Linked DNA regions of Homo sapiens. The protein of the gene in region 5 purifies or fractionates together with the protein of the main gene of each other region. This does not show direct contact. Each region holds a gene or a part of one and is shown on either strand. Other genes may lie near its edges.

Region 1 (2,391 bases), on a different chromosome or scaffold from region 5:
AGTTCCCGTTTGAGAAATTCTCAAGGGCACTTTATCAGTTTCCTTCTTCCTGGAATAACTCCTGGCATGTAACAGGCACTCACTGGTGCCAGATGCGTGAACACAAGCCTGCCACCTGCCACCTGCTGTGAGTCCTTGCTCCCTCACCTCCACTCCTGTCTATCTCCGGCCCAGCCTCTCCCTCTCTGCCCCACGTCTCCCAATCCTTGGCTGTCTCTGACCCCATTTCTCCCCCTTTGACTTGGGCTTTTTCTTTTTTCTTTTTTGAGACGGAGTCTCGCTCTGTTGCCCAGGCTGGAGTACAATGGCATGATCTTGGCTCACTGCAACCTCCACCTCCCGGGTTCAAGAGATTCTCCTGTCTCAGCCTCCCAAGTAGCTGGGATTACAGGCACGCACCACCACGCCTGGCTAATTTTTGTAGTTTTAGTAGAGACGGGGGTTCCGCCATGTTGCCCAGGCTGGTCTTGAACTCCTAGGCTCAAGCAATCTGGCAATCTGCCTGCCTTAGCCTCCCAAAGTGCTGGCATTACAGGCGTGAGCCACCACGCCCGGCTGGCTCTTTTGGACACTTGACCACCTTCTCTGGGTCTCACACTCACAGCCACACCCAAACCCTCTCCCTCTGGCTCTCCGACTCCATCACAGTCACCCCAGCCCCCATCTCCCTGTGGCTCCATCTGCTGTGTGGTGGCAGACAGGCCCCAGAGTGGGGTTGGGGATCTGGGAACTCCAAGTTCTGACCCCAGCCCACTCTCCAAATCCCCTCCACATGAGGGTCACAGTGCTGTACTGTCTCATCTGCCTTGGAGCCCATGGAAAGCCTTTCTCTCTGGCTCTCTTTCTTGGTTAGGATGTTGTGCTGGGCTTGTTCCAGCTCATCAGGAGGAACTCAGCCTAGTAGCAGAGGCCATTGGCCGGCTCTCTTTGGGGCTTTTGGTAATGAAAGCTGCATTCTCCAATCACTAAGTGCTATGCCCTGCAGTGCATGGACGACTCCTCACCACCCTGTGTACTAGCTTTTTTTTTTTTTTTTTGAGAGGCAGGCTCTTGCTCTGTCACCCAGGCACAATCACGGCTCACTGCAGCCTCAGCCTCCCGGGCTCAAGCCATCCTCAAGCCTCAGCCTCCTGAGTAGCTGGGACCATAGGTGTGAGCCACCACACCAGGCCCTGGCCATTTTAGAGAGGAAAATGGAGGCTCAAAGAGATGAAGTCAAGTGCCCAGGGCCCCTCCTGGAGTCAGTAGAGTGAGGATTCCAACCCCGGTGCACCAGAATCCAGAACATTCTACCATGCTGCCCTGGGGGCCAGACCCTCTCAGATACCAGCTCCTAATCTTCCCCTTCCTGGAGGGGCCTCTCCCTGCCCCAGAACCCCTACCAGGCACATCCCCCTTTCATGTCCTCCCCACCCCACACACGCCCCTTGCCCTTCTCCTTCCTTATTTGGCCTCTTTCAGGGTCACCCAACCCCTGCCAGGGACTGGCAACAAGCTAAGGTGTGGGCCTGTGGATGGCCACAGTGCAGACGGCCACAGCTGAGCAGGGGGACTTGGAGACAATGGGATGGGAGAGAACAGGTCCTGTCCCCACGACCACCCCAGGACCCTGTCCACACCTGCTGCATTCAGTGCCAGCCTCAGCTCGTAGGAGTTCATGGTTCCAGAGGTGTCCTCATCGAACTTGTTAAATATGGCCTGGGCAGGAAGGATGAGTCAGGGCTGCCCTCCATGCCCTGAAGAGGGCTGCCAATGGGGCCTCCCAGGCAAGACAGCCTGGTGCCCATCCCAACTCCCTTTCTTCTGGTGTGGACCCCCAGCAAGCAGCCTAGCCACTTGGGACTTCTGTTTCCCAATCTGTAAAATGGGAATAAGAGCAATGACCCAGAGGACAAGCTGAGGCTGGGTGGGGGCAGGGATATCCCAGCCAGATCTCTCCAAGTCAGCCTAGTCCAGTACCCCCTCGTTCCCTGGGGACCTGATAGCCCACAGGGTGCCTATGTCTCTGTTAGTAAAGGTTTCTCTCTTTCTGGGAAGAGGCCCAGTCTCCCACCTCACCTGCCACTCCAGGAGGTAGCCCCAGAGCTGCTGGAAGTGGTGTAAGGCCAGGCTTTGCCCATGCTGTGTTGGGGGTCGGGGGCATCTGGTTAAGGTCAATCTCTCCAGAAGGGGAGGAGAGACCCCAACGTCCCCTTCCCCACTCCCTCCCTCACCCAGGCACTGCCCCCCATGTACCCCGAAACACTGCAGCAGCTGCTCACAGGTCCTGAGCCCGATCTCTCTGGGGGTGGAGGTATGGGCCCTGGCTACAGGAAAAACAAAGTCAAACCACAGCACTTCCTGCATTCTGGCCACCACTTTAAGGGCTGGGTGGATGTGACTCCCTTAAGC
Region 2 (3,500 bases), on a different chromosome or scaffold from region 5:
CTATATTACCCTTAAAAGTCTTAGGGATTGGTGACACCTCATAGCTCTGGAAATATGAGTGAAAGTTAGGTCTAAAAATAGAAAGATCCCTTCAAAGTCTTGTTTTCGAAGCAGTTAGGATAGATGTCAGATCCCCTCTCCCATCCGCAGATGACTAGACGACTCCCTACTCAACCCAGCAGAAAACTGCAAACTTGCAGGAAAGAGTAACATAGAGCCTCTTACAGGATGGATGCAAGCCACAGCTGAAAGCAGCGGTACTACTGAAAACGGCTTAAATAAAAGTGTACACAGTACATGTTGAGATCACCAACCCAGGTCCAGAACAACAGCAGGTTATGAAATACTTTCTCTCCAGAATGTGATCAGACCTAAAAATACTAACATCAGGGATTCCCCAACAGAAGAGCCCAGCCAGATCACCCACAGTAAACAAGGCCGAGAAACACCCAAGACCCACAGTAAACCAAACCCATCAGGTACACGGAATTTCCAATGGAACACTGAAAAGTCAGAATCACCAGACACTCGAGAAGAGCCTCCACTGAAAAGATAGGTACCGAACAAACTGGAGAAAGTAACCTGGAGGACATAGACCATGACAGAAAGAAGAGAACCTTTTAAAAAAATCCTTAGGAAGATCTCGTTTATTAAGCCACTACATCCATAAAATAACAAGGTGTTATTAAATAAACAAATAAGAGTCTGAGAACAAAAACAACTTCAAAAGTAAAAATATGACAGGAGAAATGTAAAAATTAAGTAGAAGACCTGAAAACTGAAGTTGAAGAAACCTTCCAGAAGATTCTGCAAAAAAGATGAAAAACTGAAGAGAAAAGGTAAAGTCAGAGACTAGTTTAAAAGGTCCAAAATCTAAATAAAGGCATTAAAAAAGAAAATGGAGGTGAAAAGATAGAATAAAAAATTTAAGAAAATTCCCCTGAACTAAAGGATAAGATGGGACGAGCCCCCAGATAAGAAGGGCCCCTCCAGTTTGTCTGTGATGGATAAAAACAGACACATAGCCAAACTGACTATGAAATGTAGAACAGAGGATAGAAAAGCTTCCTAAGAGAGGCCGGGCGCCGTGGCTCACACCTGTAATCCCAGCACTTTGGGAGGCCGAGGCAGGCGGATCACGAGGTCAGGAGATCGAGACTATCCTGGCTAACATGGTGAAACCCTGTCTCTAATAAAAATACAAAAAAAATTAGCCAGGCGTGGTGGCGGGCACCTGTAGTTCCAGCTACTTGGGAGGCTGAGGCAGGAGAATGGCATGAACCTGGGAGGCAGAGCTTGCAGTGAGCCAAGATCACACCACTGCACTCCAGCCTGGGCAACAGAGTGAGACTCCATCTCAAAAAAAAAACAAAACAAAACAAAACAAAAAAAAACAAGAAAAAGAGAAGAAAAGAAAAGCTTCGGCCAGGCACAGTGGCTCATGCCTGTAATATCAGCACTTTGGGAGGCCGAGGCGGGCAGATCACAAGGTCAGGAGATGGAGACCACCCTGGCTAACAAGGTGAAACCCCGTCTCTACAAAAAATTAGCCGGGCGTGGTGGCAGGCACCTGTAGTCCCAGCTACTCAGGAGGCTGAGGCAGGAGAATGGCATGAACCCAGGAGGCGGAGCTTGCAGTGAGCAGAGATCACACCACTGCACTCCAGCCTGGGAAACAGAGCGAGACTCTGCCTCGAAAAACAAAAAACAACAACAAAAAAAAGGAACACTTCCAAAGAGAAAGAACACGTCTCAGACAAAGGTATGAGGATCAGAATATCACCGCACTTCTCAACAGTAATAATACGATAGTGGAACAAAATTCTAGAAAAATTATTTTCATCCTGCACTTCTGTACCCTCCCAAACTAAAGTTTGAGCAGTGAATCAAAGTTTGCAGACACACAAGGTCTCAAAAATGTAACTCTTATGCACTTTCTCTATTAGAAGATGTGCTTCACTAAAACAAGGGAATAATCCAAGAAAGAAGGGTTTCCAACTCAGGTGCTAAAAAGAATCCCCAGGCCGGGCGCGGTGGCTCACGCTTGCAATCCCAACACTTTGGGAGGCTGAGGCAGGTGGATCACGAGGTCAGGAGATCAACACCATCCTGGCTAACACGGTGAAACCCCGTCTCTACTGAAAATACAAAAAATTAGCCAGGTATGGTGGCACATGCCTGTAGTCCCAGCTACTCGGGAGGCTAAGGCAGGAGAATCACTTGAACCTGGGAGGCAGAGGGAGCAGTGAGCCAAGATCGCGCCACTGCACTCCAGCCTGGGCAACAAAACGAGACTCCGTCTCAAACAAAAAAAAAAAATCCCCAAGATGACAGTAAAAAGAATAGCCCAGGCCACATATGGTGGCTCATGCCTGTAATCCCTGCACTTTGGGAGGCCGAGGTGGGTGGATCATGTGAGGTATGGAGTTCGAGACCAGCCTGGCCAACATGATGAAACCCCATCTCTACTAAAAATACAAAACTTAGCCAGGCATAGTGGTGGGCGCCTGTAATCCCAGCTACTCAGGAGGCTGAGGCAGGAAAATCACTTGAGCCCAAGGGTGGAGGTTGCAGTGAACTGAGATTGTGCCAGTACACTCCAGCCTGGGCAACAACAGCAAAACTCCATCTCAAAAAAAAAAATAGCCCAGGCTGACCGTGATGCTTCAGGTGCAGGGGGTAACCTGTTCAGATCAAGCCGGTCAGAAGGCTCCACAAGGGACTTTTCTCAAGTAGATAAAAGCGATCATAGCACTTGATGCGTTTAAATATACTAAGAAAAAACTTACATAACTGGGATTTATTTTCAAAATAATCTGGTCATAGTTATATACACTATGCAAACAAAAAAGATAATTAGTAACTCCAAGGAAAGCAAAAACTTGTGCAGGAAAAGTAATCACAGTACCCGCCATGGTTCAGTTGTGAAGCATATTTACACAGTCACAATGGATATGAACACATCTGCCCAAAATCACACTTCTGAATGGAAAGCTAGGGATGGGGACAAAAACGAGCTTGAATGTGGCAGGGAAACAGGGATAAGAGAAAACTAAATCCTTATCTTCCACAGAGAGAAGCCCGGAAATAATGGAGAAAACTAACAGAAAAAGAAAAAAAATGCAAGTGTTACAATTATATAAGCATGTTGCTTAAAGACAGGGAGATGAAAAACCAAAAGAATTAGTTAAAATGTTTCAAGATGACTGCCTTAGGGGAACAGGAAATGGGACAGGGGGGTTGGGGGATTGCTTTTTCCAAAACAAACTTTATTGCAACTTGACATTTAATGAGCATGTGGAATTCTGATAAAAATAAAAAACTTAAAAAATCATAGCCAGAAAAGTTCATCCTCATTTATACACACATACTGGAGAGTCCCTACTGACTAACAAGAAGCTAAGCTGTTAGCTATAAGCCCCTTTCCTTTATCTAAGTTCTCATTGCAACTGCTGTTATATACAAGGTAAAAATAACCAGAAGAGTAAATATGGAAAATG
Region 3 (3,500 bases), on a different chromosome or scaffold from region 5:
TATATTCTGGGAAAATGTGTCTAATATCATTGTGAGAATCACTCATGATCTTTGCATAGCTTTGAAACCTCACAGATTATTTCAAAAAAGAAATCCTCACCAAAAGTCAGCTGTTATTTTTTATGCCTTGAAATGATTACATTTTAATTAGTGCTCATCCCTGAAAACAGCAACAATACAGTTTGACAAATTTACTTCTCTTTAATTTTAGAACCCAGCTTTTGATCCCCATGAAACCTAAATATTGCAAGGGCAACCTAAAATGTATGAAGTATTCTTCCTCTGAGGATCTATATGTTTAAAAAAACTCTATGGGGAAAGGAGGGCCCTTTTTGGGAAATTTTTGTTTGGTGATCTTTCCACTTCTGTGACCAGTCTTAGTTTAGGCACTCACCCAGAGCCCAGAGGCTAATTCTCTGTTCTAGTCTCTTCTACTTGCTTCCTACCGCAGGGTCACCTGCGCTCATCAGCCCTCATCAACTCTTCTGTGCCATTGTACTGAAGCCCAGAATGCCTGGTGTGTCATGAACATGCCTCCATGCTGGCTCCCAGACTCCCTTTTGCCTCTCTGCTTCCTAGGTGTGCTATGCTCTTCCATATCTTGCTCCCTTTTGTTTGTGTGTGTGGTTTTTTTTTGTGTGTGTGTGTTTGATTACCTTTCAAATTTCCTTAGACATCATCCTCCTTTAAAAGAAATCCTCAGCAGGGTGCAGTGGCTCATGCCTGTAATCCCAGCACTTTGGGAGCCCAAGGCAGGTGGACCACGAGGTCAGGAGTTCAAGACCATCCTGGCTATCATGGTGAAACCCCGTCTCTACTAAAAGTACAAAAATTAGCCAGTCGTGGTGGTGGGCGCCTGTAGTCCCAGCTACTCGGGAGGCTGAGGCAGGAGAATCATTTGAACCTGGGAGGCAGAAGTTGCAGTGAGCCGAGGTTGCGCCACTGCACTCCAGCCTGGGCAATAGAGCAAGATTCCATCTCAAAAAAAAGAAAAAGAAAAAAAGAAAAAAAAAATCCTCAGCTTTTCAGGCTCACCTCAAAATCCACTTTTCCAAAAGATTGTCCTAACTTTTCCACATGGACTTAATTGCTTCTGCCTCTCTACTCTTAAAGCATTTTAAGGAAATTTCCATGATGGGATTTGTTTTGTGCTTTTAGGTAGTATATGTAGTGATTTGCATGTGTTTCCCATTTTTAGGACTGTCACTCACCCTAGGCTTTCTTAGTTATCATTGTGGATTAAGCGCATATATTTGTCAGTCCCATTGTTTATTTCTAAGGCACTCAAAAATTGCTAGAGATACCAAAAAGAAATGGCTCCATGAACCTAACCATCCCAGCGAGCCTCGTAACAGCCCTATTTTGAAGAACTATTGAAAAGAAGGATTTAATTGAGTACTTACAAATCAGTAGCAGGATGCCCAGAACCATCATGCCAATCCCTGCTGGTCCAAGACCAACATTTGAAACTCCAGCTTGGTCTTCAGTGACAGGCCCATACGTGTCACCAGTTATGTCCTCTGTGTAGATGCCCGCGGCACCAGAGTCCAGGCACATGTGGTTGTCATCGCAATCACAGGCATATAACTGCACCATTTGTGCCAATTCACATGCTCTGTTATAGCTGTCCTTCACCAGGATTGGGATTTCATAAAATCCTGGAGATAAAACCTGCTTAGCCGTAAGGATTGCCGAGGTAGCTGAAATGGAAGAGAGGAAACAGAAAATAAATGGAAATTCCTTGGTGGGCTAGGGGGGTGGTTAACTCTCCCTAATACCAAATATTGACTTAAAACACTAGATTTTTCATGCTTTCTTAGTCATAAAGCACCTTGTACTTTTTTTTAACATTTATTTAATTTATTATTATTATTATTATTCTTGTTATTTTTGAGACAGAGTCTCATTCCTATTGCCCAGGCTGGAGTGCAGTGGCACGAACATGACTCACTGCAGCCTTGGATTCCTAGGTTTAAGTGATTCTCCCACCTCAGTCTCCTGAGAAGCTGGGACTACAGGTGTGTGGCACCATGCCTGGCTAATATATATACATTTAGTAGAGACAGGGTTTTGCCATATTGCCCAGGGTGGTCTTGAACTCCTGGGCTCCAGCAATCCACCTGCCTTGGCCTCTTAAAGTGCTTGGATTACAAGCATGAGCCATTCTGCCTGGCCTTTTTTACTTTTCTTTCTTTCTTTTTTTTTTTAACATTTATAACTAATTTTTAAATAAGTATTGCTTACTGCTGGATTGCTACTTCTATAATGCAGGCAAGGACCTTGCTGCATCTTTCCAGAGCAACAGTAATTGGCATATAATATACATTCAATAAATATTTGCCCAATGAATAAATAATATTGAGCTGAAAGAAAATATTAGAAGTCTTCTATTTAGGATTACAGTTTACACAATACCCTCCTTAAGACTGTTTATATGTATCTTACTCAAAATTGTTGCCCTTTCATTTAAAATTGTTCACATTCTCCTAATTCTTTGTGCTATCATTGCCTATGAATTTTCATAAAACATATTGTCTAAAATATTCATTGGAATTTATTTATTAATACAAGGAGTGTTGAGATGATTAAATTTACAGCTAAACCATGAATAGTAACTGATTGATCCATAGCACACAATATTTTTTATTATGATGGTTTATTATCCTCAGTTAGCTAGATGGCAAGCCAGCTATGTCCACCAAAATCTAACCTGTGCACAAGGTAAAAATGAGATAAGGCAATGCCACAGCACATTAAGTGAAATTCATTCTGTTCTAAAACACCAGCAAGCATTGAAACAGGTCTCTAGGAATATCATCTCCAGTGTGGTTATATTTTTTATTGGCAAACCTGTAATAGCTATAATATTATACCTCCATGCAGAACATTTTTTCTTACATGTGTAATCATAATATCTAGGATCCGAATGAGGAAAAAAGTGGTTAGCAATTATTATTGTTTATGAATGGGCTATTGAGCTTTATAGGAGATGGTGAATTCAGAGTTGACTTGATATTAATGGAATTGCTTTAACATGATTAACTTTAAAAAATATTAAAGTGGTTTTGTTGAAAAGAGCTAAAGGTTTGATGGTAAAAACAAATTGCCTAATTTCTTACTTTATTGGTGGTATTTTCCCCACCTTATTTTAGGGTTTCTCCATTCTGTAAATAGAGGGGCTTGGTGACCTTAAAGAGGTGGGAAGTATTTCCTCTCACCCTGGGCTCTGTAGTCTGATGGCCACCGACTAGCCCATGAAATTTTCCCTGTAGCCCCAAATGAATATGAGATTGGGGAGCTATCTTAGCCCATATGAGATCCTCTCATAGCATTTTCTTTTTTATTATGCACTTAACGTTTTAGGAAAAAGAACGCAAGGTAGATAAAATGTTATGTTATCTGAAATTTATTCTTAATTTTTATCGATGTCAGCCATTCAATTGTATGTAGTTATAGTCAAGATACATACATATACAACTTCGTGATCTGTTTTTCACTTT
Region 4 (2,921 bases), on a different chromosome or scaffold from region 5:
AAGGGAAGGCTTATGCATGTGTGTACACCCACACCCACACACACACACACACACTCCACTCTCCAGGTGAGTCACCTTCCCCCTGCTGTGAAAGAGATGCAAGAAAGGACCTCTCTCCCAGCAGCAAGACAGGGACACCATTAATTCACTCTGACCTTAGGGAAATATGTACGCTCTCTGAGCCTTGGTCTCCTCCTTTGTACAGTGAGGACAGGAGAAGCCAGGGGAAGAGGAACTCTAAGGTCCCTCCTAGCTCTATTATTCTTTGTTTGACTGAATATTTTCAGCTTCTCTATGTACTAGGAGCTTTACACACCTCCCCCATTTAATCCTTGCATGCCCATGAAAGGTATATGTTAGTATTCCCTTTCCATATATGAAGAAATTAAGGCACAGGGAGGGTAAGCCACTTGCCTTAAACTTGGAGCCAGTCAGTGTCCCAGCCAGGATTCAAGCCCAGCTCTGTCTGAGACCAGGCTCCCTCCAAATTCGCCATAGTACTTTTGACTGACTCTCCACATTTGCCTTATCATCTGCTCTCAATAGCAGCTGCTGGGCCAGGCACGGTGGCTCACGCCTGTAATCCTAGCGCTTTGGGAGGCCAAGGCGGGCGGATCGCCTGAGGTCAGGAGTTTGAGACCAGCCTGGCTAACATGGTAAAACCCCGTTTCTACTAAAAATACAAAAAATTAGCCAGGTGCGGTGGTGCATGCCTGTAATCCCAGCTACTCGGGAGGCAGAGGCAGGAGAATCGCTTGAACCCGGGAGGCAGAGGTTGCAGTGAGCCGAGATCATGCCATTGCCCTCCAGCTTGGGCAACAAGAGCGAAACTCTGTCTCAAAAAAAAAAAAAAAAATAGCAGCTGCTGGGGCAGGCCCAGAGGGAGGGTCTCCCACAGGGATTCCAGGTTTGATTTGATGGCACTGATAACCCAAGGAAACCCCAACAGGTCCCAGAGTCCCTGATCTTCCACTCACCCCCGACTGCCCTCATCCAGGGCCCTCTCACCTTGGTTTATGGAGCTGTGGAAGGACTCCTGGTAGGACAGCTCTGAGTGGTAGCTGTGCTGGGAGGTGTAAGACCCAGCTCGATAGGGGTAATGGTGCCCACTGATCTTGGCCCACTTGTAGGAGAGGGGCTGGGAGCCCCCACTGGCATAGCACTTCAGCACCACATCGTTGCCATATGTCATGTGGCCCTCTGTCCAGCACATGGGCACTGCAGGTCGTGCTGCAAGGAGGCAGACAATTGTAAGCCAGGGCCCAGCCAAGAGACAGAGCCAGGCTCAAAGTGGCCAAGCTGCCCTTGGCTCTTAAGCCAGGGGGAGAGGAGCTTAGAGGAGTCTGGCCATACCTTGGACAGTGACAATGACCTTCCGGGTGGCCATGGTGGTCTTCTTCACCCGGCACTCATAAGTGGCTGTATCAGATACCTGCAGGTTCATGAGGTTGATGGAGGCATCGTACTGGCTTGGGTCTGAGGCTGCAAAGCGGACCCTCTGCTGCAGATGGGGAAGGCTGCCATGGTTGATCCTCTTGTCCTGGTAACTAAGGAACTGTGAAGAGGAGAGGAAAACAGGTGGTGAAACAGGCAGAGCCAAGAAGGGCCATGTGGATTGGCTGCTTTGGGCAATTCACTGAACTTCTCTGAGACTCTTTTCTCAGCTGAAAAAATGAGAATAATGATGCCTGAGCCACTGACCTCTTACAGAACTGGTGAGATCAGGTGAGATCAAGCACTTGGAAAGATATATGGTCAGACTGGGAACTTTTTGAAGGCAAAGACTACAACTTATCTTCCTTTTAGAATGGGATGGGAGGAGGTAGACTGACTGGCTAGCTTAATTCACAATTGCAGAGCTCTCATCCCCATTGCCTCATTCCCTGAAAGGCCTTGGGGGAGGTTCAAGGTCAGTCTTCTCCCTTTGGGATGTTGGCTGTCCAACAGGTAGACATCATGAAGCCTAGAGGAAGGAGACCCCTGTGCCCAGCACTCACCACGTTCTCTCGGTGGTGGGCGGGGTCTGAGTTGACCTGCATCCACTCGATGTCCAGCCCATTGGGACCATAGTCCTCAGGGTCCAGGACGTAGGGGCAGCCCAGCCTCACATTATCACCTTCTGCCAGGTACAGGACCTCCTGTCCATCCCCGTTGATCCGCACAGCAGACAGCAGTGCTAGGGGGAGGGCAGAGAAGATGGGGTGGTAGGAGCAGAAGCAGGGCTTCAGGAGGAGTCAGTGTCAGCCCTTCCCTTCATATTCTCTGTCCACGGCACCCAGAGGTCAGCAGTGCTTTCATAAAAAGGAGGGCTGCTCGTAGTGGGTGTGTATGTGTGTGTGCATGAATTGTCACAGGCATATAACAGCTATACATATAGCTGTTATATATGTAGCTGTTATGTATGCTTGTATGTATATATGATTATGTGTATGCATGTATGAATATGTACACGTATGTACATTGTATGCTTATGAGTATTTGTGGCTGCTTATGTGTACTGTGAGGATATTCATGTACATGACCACGTAGCGTGTCTGCTTATATATTTATATGATAGTGTGGATGTGTTTGTGTGTGTGAAGGCATGTGGTACACACAGAGTTGTTAAATGCTCTGATAGAAGAGCCTGGCTGATTAAATGTCACCTATGTGGGCTCTGTCTGGGCTGAGTGAAGTCCTCCTGTCCAGAGGCAGCGGGGTGGTTACAATGGCTTCTGGGACTCCTCTCCAGCCTGAGAAGCCAAAGACTAAGTGTGTCTATGTGTGTCTGTGTATGACAGTGTGAGTCTGTGGCTGTATGCCTCTGTGTGGTTTTGTATAGTGATGTGTGACCATGTGAGCTATGTAAGTGCTTAAAAGTGACAGTGTGTGCTTGTGCATGACAGTGGACAGCTGTGACCAGGAGCCTGGCTGTGTTCGTG
Region 5 (2,676 bases):
AAATGGTACCCATCACTATTTTTGGTTACACCCTTAAGCATAACAAGAGTCAAAACATGACTTAGCTGACTGTAACAGTGTGACTCATAGGTATTTTCATTTTGTCTTTACTCACTGTGCTGGTCCTTCAGCATCTCAGAGTGAAATAAGGTAATATAAAAAGGTCTCCATGTCCAGGCATCAAACGCTTGATCCTGGGATGTGGGGGTGGGAGCTGAGCTCACTGGAACATGGGGCTCAAGAATCTAAGGGGCCGGGCACAGTGGCTCATTCCTGTATTCCCCCGGCACTTTGGGAGGCCAAGGTGGGCATATCACTTGAGCCCAGGAGTTTGAGACCAGCGTGGGCAACATAGGGAGACCTCGTCTCTACAAAAAAAAAAAAAAAGAAAAAATAGAATCTAGGGGCCTGGAACCCAGTCCAAGCCTCCTCCCTGTCCTCTCAACTCTGGGTCCTCACAGACTTCCACTCCACCCCACCCCCTCTTCCCCTCTTCCCTTCAGAACGAGACAGATGAGAGCCAGATCCAGATGGCAGGTGGAGACGTGGAGCTGCCCCGGGAGCTGGCCAAGATGATCGAGGAGGACACAGAGGAGGAGGAGGAGAAGGCCTCAGTCCTTGGGCAGCTGGCCAGCCTTCCTGGCTTGAACCTGGGCTCACTCAAGGACAAGGCCCAGGCCACACTGGGGGATCTCAAGCAATCAGCTGAGAAGTGTCACGTCATGTGACCACTTCCCCGGGGTTACCCACTGGGCTGGGCCCCCATGAGGGCTAAGAGTGTGTCAACTTCCAGGGACCCATACTCCATTTGGGGCTTTGTTTCCCTTGCCCCATCCTAGTTCCAAGACCTTTCCCATCCATGCCCCAAGCCTATCTTCTGGTTTCTTCCTCTCCGCTGGGAGTAAAGTCCCCATCTTCACTCTACCCTTCAGGACCCTCCCCACCAGCTCAGCCTGTGGAGGCCTCCCAAGATTGTAGGAATAGGCCCATCCCTCTCTGGCCATGGCCCCAAGTTCCTGCACACAGGAGCACCCACAGAGAGACACACACAGGACACAAAACCCCTGGCACGTTCAGAGACAGAAGCCACAGATACATCCCGGCACAGACAGACACACACGAGGCCAGCTCCCTTGCGTGTCCAGCCCCTCCAGACACCACCACTCAGAAACTCTGAGAGAGAGCATGGGCAGACACCCTCAGCAGACAGGAGGCCTGAGTTCCAGTCTCCACCTTTATTGTTCTTGAAAGCCCCTGCTCTCTCTGAGCCTTATTTCATCATCTGTAAAATGGGAATGTCCTGAATGACTTCTAAGGCTCTTTCTGGCTTGAACTGTCAGAGCCAAGCCCACATCCCTCCTTGGGCAGGGCAGCAGCTGCTGCCACAGCCTCCAGCGGCTGCCACTGTGGGCTCTGGGAGCCGGAGCGATGCTGTGTGAGAGGCAGAGTGCCAAGGATGAAGCTGGCACTGAACAGTAAGCGGCTCCAGGCCTCCTCTGGGCCCAGGGCCCAGCCAATTTCTGTTCTGTTCCTGTAGAACGCTCTCTGGATTCCATAGCTGGAATCTCCTCTCTTAGCTCAGTGAAAAATAAAAATCCCAAATGGTGTGCCTACCTTCCCACTTCTTACTGGCTTCCAGGAGTCTTGGAGTTCATAGCCCCCCGAGCCTGCCTTAAAGGGGTGTCCTCCACCCCCCACCTACAGCTTCACAGGAGGGGAGAAGGCATCCAGTGCTAGGAGTAGAAGTGTCTCCAGCTCTGTTCTCTTGGGGCCCTGGGTGAAGGTGGGGTCTGGGGCTTATGAAATAGGTCTGGGCTTTGAGGAGGATGGAGCAGCCTCATTATGTGGGGAAGATGGGGCCTCTGGGGCGTCACTGAGACCACAGGTGGGGCCGGGGCTGGACCGCAGCTGTCTTGGGTGCCTGTGCCTACACCCCTCCTCACCCTAGAGACGGAAGATGTGCAAAAAGAAAGAAGGAAGGGCAACTGCATTCCAGCCCCACACTGTGATGACTTTGAGCCTGTCCTTTCCCTCCTTGAGCCTGTCTTGCTTGTCCCCTGTAAAATGAACAGTCCCCCTCTCCCCCAAATAGTAATAATACATGTTTCAAAGGGTGACCATTTATAAAGCATATGACAAACCATATCAATAAATGTAACTCATTCTTTTAAAAAAATGAAGAGCCCAGATCTCATCCCGCTCACCTGTGGCAGGGGCTGAGGGGCAGGGGTCAGGGGAGGTTTAAGAAACCAGCCAGGAAGCTCCCCAAGCAGGTCGCCCCAGGGGCCTGGGCAGGAGGAAGGTGCTATGGGGCCAACCCTAGGTGCCCCACCCCGAGGTCCAGGGCCCGGCCTGTAGGGAAGCCAGCCAAGGTTCACAGGCAGGAGCGGCTGTCTGAGGATTGGGTTTCAAGGGCAAAGTTTCCATGAGGTCTCCTTTGTAAAATAAAAACAAGGCATATACAACCTGTACAGGAGATCATGCGGGGCTGGAAGAGAGGAGACAGGGCAGGGAGAGACACAGGCCCAGCCCTGGAGTCTGCTGCTGAAGCTGTCACTCTTGGTCTCACTCTCCTGAGTGTCCCCAGGGAATGGGCCTGGGCCTCTGAGCTGCTCCTGGGCTGCCCCCAGGCCAGGGCCTCCTCCTGACCTTCTCAGAGCTGGAGGAGACCCAAGC
Region 6 (3,500 bases), on a different chromosome or scaffold from region 5:
AATATGACAATGTAATAGTTCCCTTTAGAAGACTACATTACTAATTAGTAAAACATTTCTAGGCTGGGCATGGTGGCTCACGCCTGTAATCCTAGCACTTTGGGAGGCCGAGGTGAGTGGATCACCTGAGGTCAGGAGTTTGAGACCAGCCCGGCCAACATGGTGAAACCCCGTCTCTACTAAAAATATAAAAATTAGCCAGGTGTGGTGGTGGGCACCTATAATCCCAGCTACTCGGGAGGCTGAGGCAGGAGAATCGCTTGAACCCGGGGGGATGGAGGTTGCAGTGAGCCGAGATCGCGCCAGTTCACTCCAGCCTGCGTGAAAGAGCGAAACTCTGTCTCAAAAAACAAAAAACAAACAAACAAACAAAAACACTTCTAGAGGGTCGGGTGTGGTGGCTCACACCTGTAATCCCAGTACTTTGGGAGGCCAAGGCAGGAGGATTGCTTGAGCCCAGGAGTTCGAGGCTGCAGTGAGCCAGGATCATGCCACTGTACTCCAGACTGAGCCAAACAGTGAGACCCCATCTCTTAAAATAAAAAAATTTAAAAAATAAAAAAAAGAAAGTTTGCCAACTGATATGGTTAGGCTCTGTGTCCCCACTCAAATCTCACCTTGAATTGTAATTCCCATAATCCCCACGTGTCAAGGGCAGGACCAGGTGGGGGCGGTTTCCCCCATGCTGTTCTGGTGATTTTGAGTGAGTTGCATGAGACCTGATGGTTTTATAAGCGTCTGGCATTTCCCCTGCCTGCACTGACTGTAAGTTTCCTGAGGCCTCCCCAGCAATGTGGAACAGCGAGTCAATTAAACCTCTTTCCTTTATAAATTACCCAGTCTCAGGCAGTTCTTCATAGCAGCGTGAGAATGGGCTACTACACCAATCCTTGGTTGAAATTAGTAAGTTATAAAACCATCACAGCATAGTAGACGCATTCTTCAAAGTGTGCTCCCAAGGAGTCCTACACGAGAATCACCTGGGCTGCCTGTTAGAATGCAGACTCCTAGACCCCACCCCAGACCTAATTAATCAGAATTTCTGGAAGTGAAGGCCTGGGAATTCACATTTCTAGTAAGTACCTTTTTAGAAGGAATCTAAAAATATTATTAAGAGTAATCTGATATTGTGGAAAAAATATCTCCTGTACTTTCTAGGAGGATAAATGGAATAAGAAACTCCGTAAGTGTAATTTTTGTAAAAAAAAAAAAAACTGATTACTTTCATATAATACAGTAGTCATTTGGATTTAAGATACAATCTAGGCCGGGTGCGGTGGCTCACGCCTGTAATCCCAGCACTTTGGGAGGCCGAGGCAGGTGGATCACGAGGTCAGGAGATCGAGACCATCCTGGCTAACACGGTGAAACCCCGTCTCTACTAAAAATACAAAAAATTAGCCAGGTGTGGTGGCGGGCACCTGTAGTCCCAGCTACTGGGGAGGCTGAGGCAGGAGAATGGCGTGAACCGGGGAGGCGGAGCTTGCAGTGAGCAGAGACTGCGCCACTGCACTCCAGCCTGGGCGACAGAGCGAGACTCTGTCTCAAAAAAAAAAAAAAAAAAAAAAAAAAAAAAGATACAATCTAGTACACAAAACAAGTTCTACTCCATTTCCATTTTGGATCACCTTTGGCTGAAAGTTTACACCAAGTAATTGAAGCTCTGTAAAACACTAAATACTTCTCCAATTTTTGTTAACAAGAAACATCATGTGACAAAAAGGAAAAAAAAGAAATATCATGTGAAATGTGAAATGCTCTAAGAGTTCCATCCCCTAAACATAGAACATATGTGACAGTACAAAATAAAGGCTAGTAAAGATTTCTGTCCTTTTTTTTTTTTTTGAGACAGGGTCTTGCTCTGTCACCCAGGCTGGAGTGCAGTGGTGCAATCTAGGCTCACTGCAGCCTCAACCTCTGGGACTCAAGCGATCCTCCCACCTCTGCCTCCTGAGTAGCTGGGGCTACAGGGGTGCGCCACCATGCCTGGCTAATTTTTTGTAGAGACAGGGTTTTGCCACGTTGCCCAGGCTGGCCTTGAATTCCCGGGCTCAAGTGATACTCTGGCTGGCCTCAGCTTCCCAAAGTGCTGGGATTGTAGGCATGGGCCACCATGCTTAGTCTTGTCTTGTCTTTTTTTTTTTTTTTGAGCAAGAATCCTGGAGCACAGTGGCACAATCATGGCTTACTGCAGCCTCGACCTCCTGAGCTCAAGCAGTCCTTCCACCTCAGCTTCCCAAGTAGCTGTAACGATAGCCATGAGCCACCACATCCGGTTAATTTGTGTTTTTTGTAGAGACAGGGTTTTGCCATGTTGCCCAGGCTGGACTCGAACTCCTGGGCTCAAGCCATCCACCTCCCTAGGCCTCCCAAAGTGCTGGGATTACAGGCATGAGCCACCACACCAGGCCTCTATGTCCTTTTGACATTCATCAAAAAAGCAGTTTGAAGGCAGGGCGCGGTAGCGCATGCCTGTAATCCCAGCACTCTGGGAGGCCAAGGCAGGTGGATCACTTGAGGTCAGGGGTTTGACCAGCCTGGCCAACACAGTGAAACCCCATCTCTATTAAAAATACAAAAATTAGCTGGGCATGGTGGCATGTGCCCGTAATCCCAGCTACTCAGGAGGCTGAGGTAAGAGAATCACTTGAACCTGGAGGGCGGAGGTTGCAGTGAGCTGAGATTGTGCCACTGAACTCCAGCCTGGGGAAGAGACTCTGTCTTTAAAAAAAAAAAATGCAGTTTGAAGTAAAATTGATATTTAAATAGAGTTGGAAGGAAATGTACCAAATTCATGGGAGTGGTTGTCTCAGTGGGAAGGGAAGAGAAATGGCCCAAGGAAGCTCTGACTTGATAATACTTAATTTCTAAGCATTATAAAAGATAAAGTATGAGCAATGATTTTTGAATGGTGAGTTATGATGCTGGTTAATTTGCTTTCAATAATTTTCTTTTCTTTTTTTTTTTTTTTTTTTGAGACAGAGTCTTACTCTGTTGCCCAGGCTGGAGTGCAGTGGCTCAATCTCTGCTCACTGCAACTGCCTCGTCCTGGGTTCAAGCAATTCTCCTGCCTCAGTCTCCCAAGTAGCTGAGATTACAGGTGCATGCCACCACACCCGGCTAATTTTTTGTTTGTTTGAGATGGAATCTCGCTCTTTCACTCAAGCTGGATTGCAGTGGTATGATCTTGGCTCACTTGAACCTCCGCCTCCCAGGTTCAAGCAATTCTCTGTCTCAGCCTCTGGAGTAGCTGGGATTACAGGGGCCCACGACCACTCCCGGCTAATTTTTGTATTTTCAGTAGAGACGGGGTTTCACTATGTTGGTCAGGCTGGTTTCGAACTCCGGACCTCATGATCCACCCGCCTCAGCCTCCCAAAGTGCTGGGATTACAGGCATGAGCTACCGTGCCCGGCCTAACACCCGGCTAATTTTTACATTTTTATAAGAGATGGGGTTTCACCATGTTGGTCAGGCTAGTCTCGATTGAACTTTTGACC
Region 7 (3,921 bases), on a different chromosome or scaffold from region 5:
AAGAAACAGTTTCTTTTCTTTTTTTAACTTTAAATTCTTTTTTTTTTTTTTTTTAATTAGAGATGGGCTCTCACTATGATGCCCAGGCTGGTTTCGAACTCCTCCTGGGTTCAAGCAATCCTCCTGTTTCAGCCTCCTGTGTAGCAGGAACTGACTTCAGGCACACACTACCATGCCCGGAAAAACAGTTTCTTTTCTATTGACGTAGGGATCCGTGGTTCTGAAATGTTTGCTGAGATGGATTTGAGGGCCATAAAACCTTACCAGACTCTGATCAAAGAAGTCGGGCAGAGACATTGCGTGGACCCTGCTGTCATCGCAGCCATCATCTCCAGGGAAAGCCATGGCGGATCTGTCCTGCAAGACGGCTGGGACCACAGGGGACTTAAATTTGGCTTGATGCAGGTATTTAGCTAGAAACTTTCTATCAGCCCCACTGCATCCCTCCTCACAGAAGCTCAACCTGAACTAGAAATCCATTTGCAGTGCTTCCAAGCCCCAAAATACCCTGGCATCTGGCTACAGGTACTCCAGCATAATTTTTTTTTTTTTTTTGAGATGGAGTTTCATTCTTGTTACCCAGGCTGGAGTGCAATGGCGTGATCTCGGCTCACTGCAACCTCCACTCCCGGGTTCAAGTGATTCTCCTCCCTCAGCCTCCTGAGTAGCTGGGATTACAGGCACACGCCACCATGCCCAGCTAATTTTTTGTATTTTTAGTAGAGACGGGATTTCACCTTGTTGGCCAGGCTGGTCTTGAACTCCTGACCTCAGGTGATCCACCCACCTCAGTCTCCCAAAGTGCTGGGATTACAAGCTTGAGCCACTGTGCCCGGCCACTCCAGCATAATTTGATCTGGGATTTCTGTAACACATCTTTTTATTTTATTCAAGGCTTATTCATTATTAGATATATTTTAAAAAGTATTTTAGGAGTTTCATAACTACCATTCTGCAATAAATAATATGTAATACACTAAAACTGAGAAAATCTTATAAATAGCATTATTGTTACAGGTGTCCTCTTGGGGTTCATGAAGTAGTAAATTTCATCCATGTGGATCAAAACATGGTATAACTGTGCCCTACTTGAAACAACTTGTTCCTTTGGGTAAACTGGAGGAAGGGGATCCAAATTATCTGGATATTTGCTTCCAGGCTCGATTTTAAATTGTCTGTAGAAATACAGACTTCTGGCCTTCCCAGTTAGAAACAAATTTTTATCTGAATTAGCTGGATAATTATTTATTACTATAAATGTGTAGACTTTGGGTGTTATTTGTTTCAAAACAACTTAAATTTTTTTTTTGTATATTAGAATGTTTAGCTAAAACTATACCATGTCCATTTCTCCCAAACCTTACTTTGTTTCTCTGACTCTCATCTATATGAAAGAAAGAACAATAGAATTGACTCTTTGGGGATAAAGGCCGGTATCTATGACTTGAATACCAGGAGAGGAAATTAGGAATGGCAGAAAAAATGTGTTACCTCATCCAGATGCTGACTTTATTATCTGAATTTTCTAGCTTGATAAACAAACGTACCACCCTGTCGGTGCCTGGGATAGCAAAGAGCACCTTTCACAGGCTACTGGGATTCTAACAGAGAGAATTAAGGCAATCCAGAAAAAATTCCCCACGTGGAGTGTTGCTCAGCACCTCAAAGGTAGGCTGTATTCTGAGTACTTTGTTTAAATGAGCAATGAATGAGACCACTGAAGGCCAGTGTGACCCGAGACTCCCTGGGAGCATTTCCACGGGGTCAGCAGTGGCCCTGGGAGGAGCTGTCTAGAGGCTGCATTTGCATTCCCTGAACCACTGAGTTACTTTGAGAGGTCCTCCATCCTCAACCTCCATTTCCTCTTCTGCAGAATGTTGGGGTTCTTATTCATTGCTTACTGAGCTATTGAGTGATACCTTGAAACATAGTGAGACCCTGTCTCTACAAAAAAAAAAAAAAAAAAAAAAAAAGCTGGGCATGGTGACACACAGTCCCAGCTACTCAGGAGGCTAAGCCAGGAGGATTGCTTGTGCCTGGGAGGTTAAGGCTGCAGTGAGCATTGATTACATCACTGCACTCCAGCCTGGGAGACAGAGTGAGACCCCATCTCTCAAAAAAAAATTTATCTATCTATCTATCTATCTATCTATCTATCTATCTATCTATCTATCTGTTTGCCTACCTCTCATAGGTTTTTTCCTGTTATAAGAAACTGTCAACAACTTTCCAAATTGTCTGAACAATGTTACTCTGTGAGTATTTTCGGGACTTCAGGTGCTATATATCCAAGTGGAAATCTCTGCTTGGCTGACCACAGGCCCCCTCAAGTTCAGCATCTCCCAGATGGAATTAACTCACTAACTTCCCACTATAAATTTGCTCTTTCTTCTGCATTTTACATGTCTTGGAGGCACCATAATATAGCCAGTCATCCCAGCCTGAAAACCAGATTGCTTTCTTAGGCTCTCTGGTTCCTTCTCTCTTCACACCCAACCACATCAATTCCTATTAGGTTTGCCTCCTATTGGCCAATGTTATGTCCTCCACACTCTAACGGCCTTAATCAGAACAGTTTCTAGTCTCTACTTCAAGGTCCTTGAAGGCAGGGATCAGGACCAGGCATCTTCCTCTCTGGATATCAGAGCAGAGCACAATTATGTTAAACACATACATAACTACTAGAGATAAAATTCTAGGGTAAAATAGCACACACATGCATATGTACACATACCCAAAGAAATAAGTGTGTCTTGGGTACCTTGCAGTCAGTGTGGCACCTCTCCTGGCACATAGTAGGTGCTTGAAAACATTTCCTGAATGAATAAATGAGTGAGTGAATAGATGAGTGAATTATTGAATAAATGAGAGAATGTTACAAGCATTTTCAGCAGAGGATGTACTGGGAGTCTAGTTCTGCCAGGCCTGGATTACATAAAAAAGCAAATCTGATTTTTGCAACAAGAAAAACCAAAGACTTTGGAAAAAGAGAAAGAAAGCAATCTGGAATTTTCCCAGTGATTCTTGGGATAGCACGTCCTTTCAGAAAGGGAGGGAGAGGGAGGAGGATTTGGGACTGCCTGCTTTGGAAGATTTGCCTGGAAAGCTAACATCTTGGCAATGCTCATTGCTTATTTCTGTTGAAAGTTAATATTTGAGCCTAATTCTCTGTGTTTCATTTCAGGTGGTCTCTCAGCTTTTAAGTCAGGAATTGAAGCGATTGCCACCCCATCGGACATAGACAATGACTTCGTCAATGATATCATTGCTCGAGCTAAGTTCTATAAAAGACAAAGCTTCTAGGCAAAGCTCTGTGGGTGGGCCAGGTTGGCAGAGTGCTCAGATGGCCGCCTTTGAGAGTTTTACGTGAATGTGTTGTATACAACACTGGCAAAGAAATGATTAAAATCATGAAAGAAAATTCATTTCCCAATTTTCTGAATGAAAATAAGCATTGAAAAAAGGAAAGAAAAATAAAAGAAATCCATCCAGTTCACAATATGGTTCCTAGGAAACGGACATAGACATATATATAATTACTTTGCAGTAAATGTGAATATCATGGCAAATGGTCCCTAGGTATTCCAGCCAGGCTTCATTTTAGCCTGTGATTCCAATGCCCACCTACTCCCTGTCTACCAGAATTGCTAACAAGTTAAGTAAGCCTTACCCGAGCCTTTGTCTTTTTTCCAGTATCTGCCCAGAGCCCTCAGGCTTTGCTTATGAGAAGTTCCTGACTCGTAAGCCAGCCAATCCATGGGACAATGGAAGAAATAGGGATGGAATTCTAGCTTCATGGGAAACTGAGAGCCAACTGAGGTGAAGCTGTCATTCAAGTTAGATACACCAAGTCCTTCAAACCCACAGCAACCTCCTGTGTTTTCTTTTGTCTGTGAAGATCCAGGGACTGGCTTTTCTTAT

Evidence for each region.
Region 1: the proteins of CPLX3 (region 5) and CAPN12 purify together in Homo sapiens (affinity purification with mass spectrometry; one large-scale study listed by BioGRID and IntAct). This does not show direct contact.
Region 2: the proteins of CPLX3 (region 5) and ATE1 purify together in Homo sapiens (affinity purification with mass spectrometry; one large-scale study listed by BioGRID and IntAct). This does not show direct contact.
Region 3: the proteins of CPLX3 (region 5) and DSG4 purify together in Homo sapiens (affinity purification with mass spectrometry; 2 studies listed by BioGRID and IntAct, with this or other methods). This does not show direct contact.
Region 4: the proteins of CPLX3 (region 5) and VSIG8 purify together in Homo sapiens (affinity purification with mass spectrometry; 2 studies listed by BioGRID and IntAct, with this or other methods). This does not show direct contact.
Region 6: the proteins of CPLX3 (region 5) and DUSP14 purify together in Homo sapiens (affinity purification with mass spectrometry; 2 studies listed by BioGRID and IntAct, with this or other methods). This does not show direct contact.
Region 7: the proteins of CPLX3 (region 5) and LYG2 purify together in Homo sapiens (affinity purification with mass spectrometry; 2 studies listed by BioGRID and IntAct, with this or other methods). This does not show direct contact.

The regions. Positions count from the first base shown.
Region 1 is NC_000019.10:38,732,084-38,734,474, forward strand, and holds part of CAPN12 (calpain-12), read right to left. Parts: intron 2,307-2,391; coding exon 2,236-2,306; intron 2,122-2,235; coding exon 2,059-2,121; exon of another isoform or gene 2,055-2,058; intron 1,858-2,054; coding exon of another isoform or gene 1,829-1,857; exon of another isoform or gene 1,699-1,828; coding exon 1,620-1,698; exon of another isoform or gene 1,619-1,619; intron 1-1,618. UniProt on the Homo sapiens protein: Calcium-regulated non-lysosomal thiol-protease.
Region 2 is NC_000010.11:121,914,532-121,918,031, forward strand, and holds part of ATE1 (arginyl-tRNA--protein transferase 1), read right to left. Parts: intron 1-3,500. UniProt on the Homo sapiens protein: Involved in the post-translational conjugation of arginine to the N-terminal aspartate or glutamate of a protein. This arginylation is required for degradation of the protein via the ubiquitin pathway. Does not arginylate cysteine residues.
Region 3 is NC_000018.10:31,404,277-31,407,776, reverse strand, and holds part of DSG4 (desmoglein-4 isoform 2 preproprotein), read right to left. Parts: intron 1,701-3,500; coding exon 1,404-1,700; intron 1-1,403.
Region 4 is NC_000001.11:159,856,737-159,859,657, forward strand, and holds part of VSIG8 (V-set and immunoglobulin domain-containing protein 8 precursor), read right to left. Parts: intron 2,177-2,921; coding exon 1,998-2,176; intron 1,556-1,997; coding exon 1,354-1,555; intron 1,231-1,353; coding exon 1,009-1,230; intron 1-1,008.
Region 5 is NC_000015.10:74,829,627-74,832,302, forward strand, and holds the end of CPLX3 (complexin-3), read left to right. Parts: exon of another isoform or gene 1-75; intron 76-503; coding exon 504-728; 3' UTR 729-2,176; downstream 2,177-2,676.
Region 6 is NC_000017.11:37,496,391-37,499,890, reverse strand, and holds part of DUSP14 (dual specificity protein phosphatase 14), read right to left. Parts: intron 1-3,500. UniProt on the Homo sapiens protein: Involved in the inactivation of MAP kinases. Dephosphorylates ERK, JNK and p38 MAP-kinases. Plays a negative role in TCR signaling by dephosphorylating MAP3K7 adapter TAB1 leading to its inactivation.
Region 7 is NC_000002.12:99,241,746-99,245,666, reverse strand, and holds the end of LYG2 (lysozyme g-like protein 2 precursor), read left to right. Parts: intron 1-208; coding exon 209-405; intron 406-1,529; coding exon 1,530-1,668; intron 1,669-3,184; coding exon 3,185-3,303; 3' UTR 3,304-3,421; downstream 3,422-3,921. UniProt on the Homo sapiens protein: May act as a potent antibacterial protein that may play a role in the innate immunity.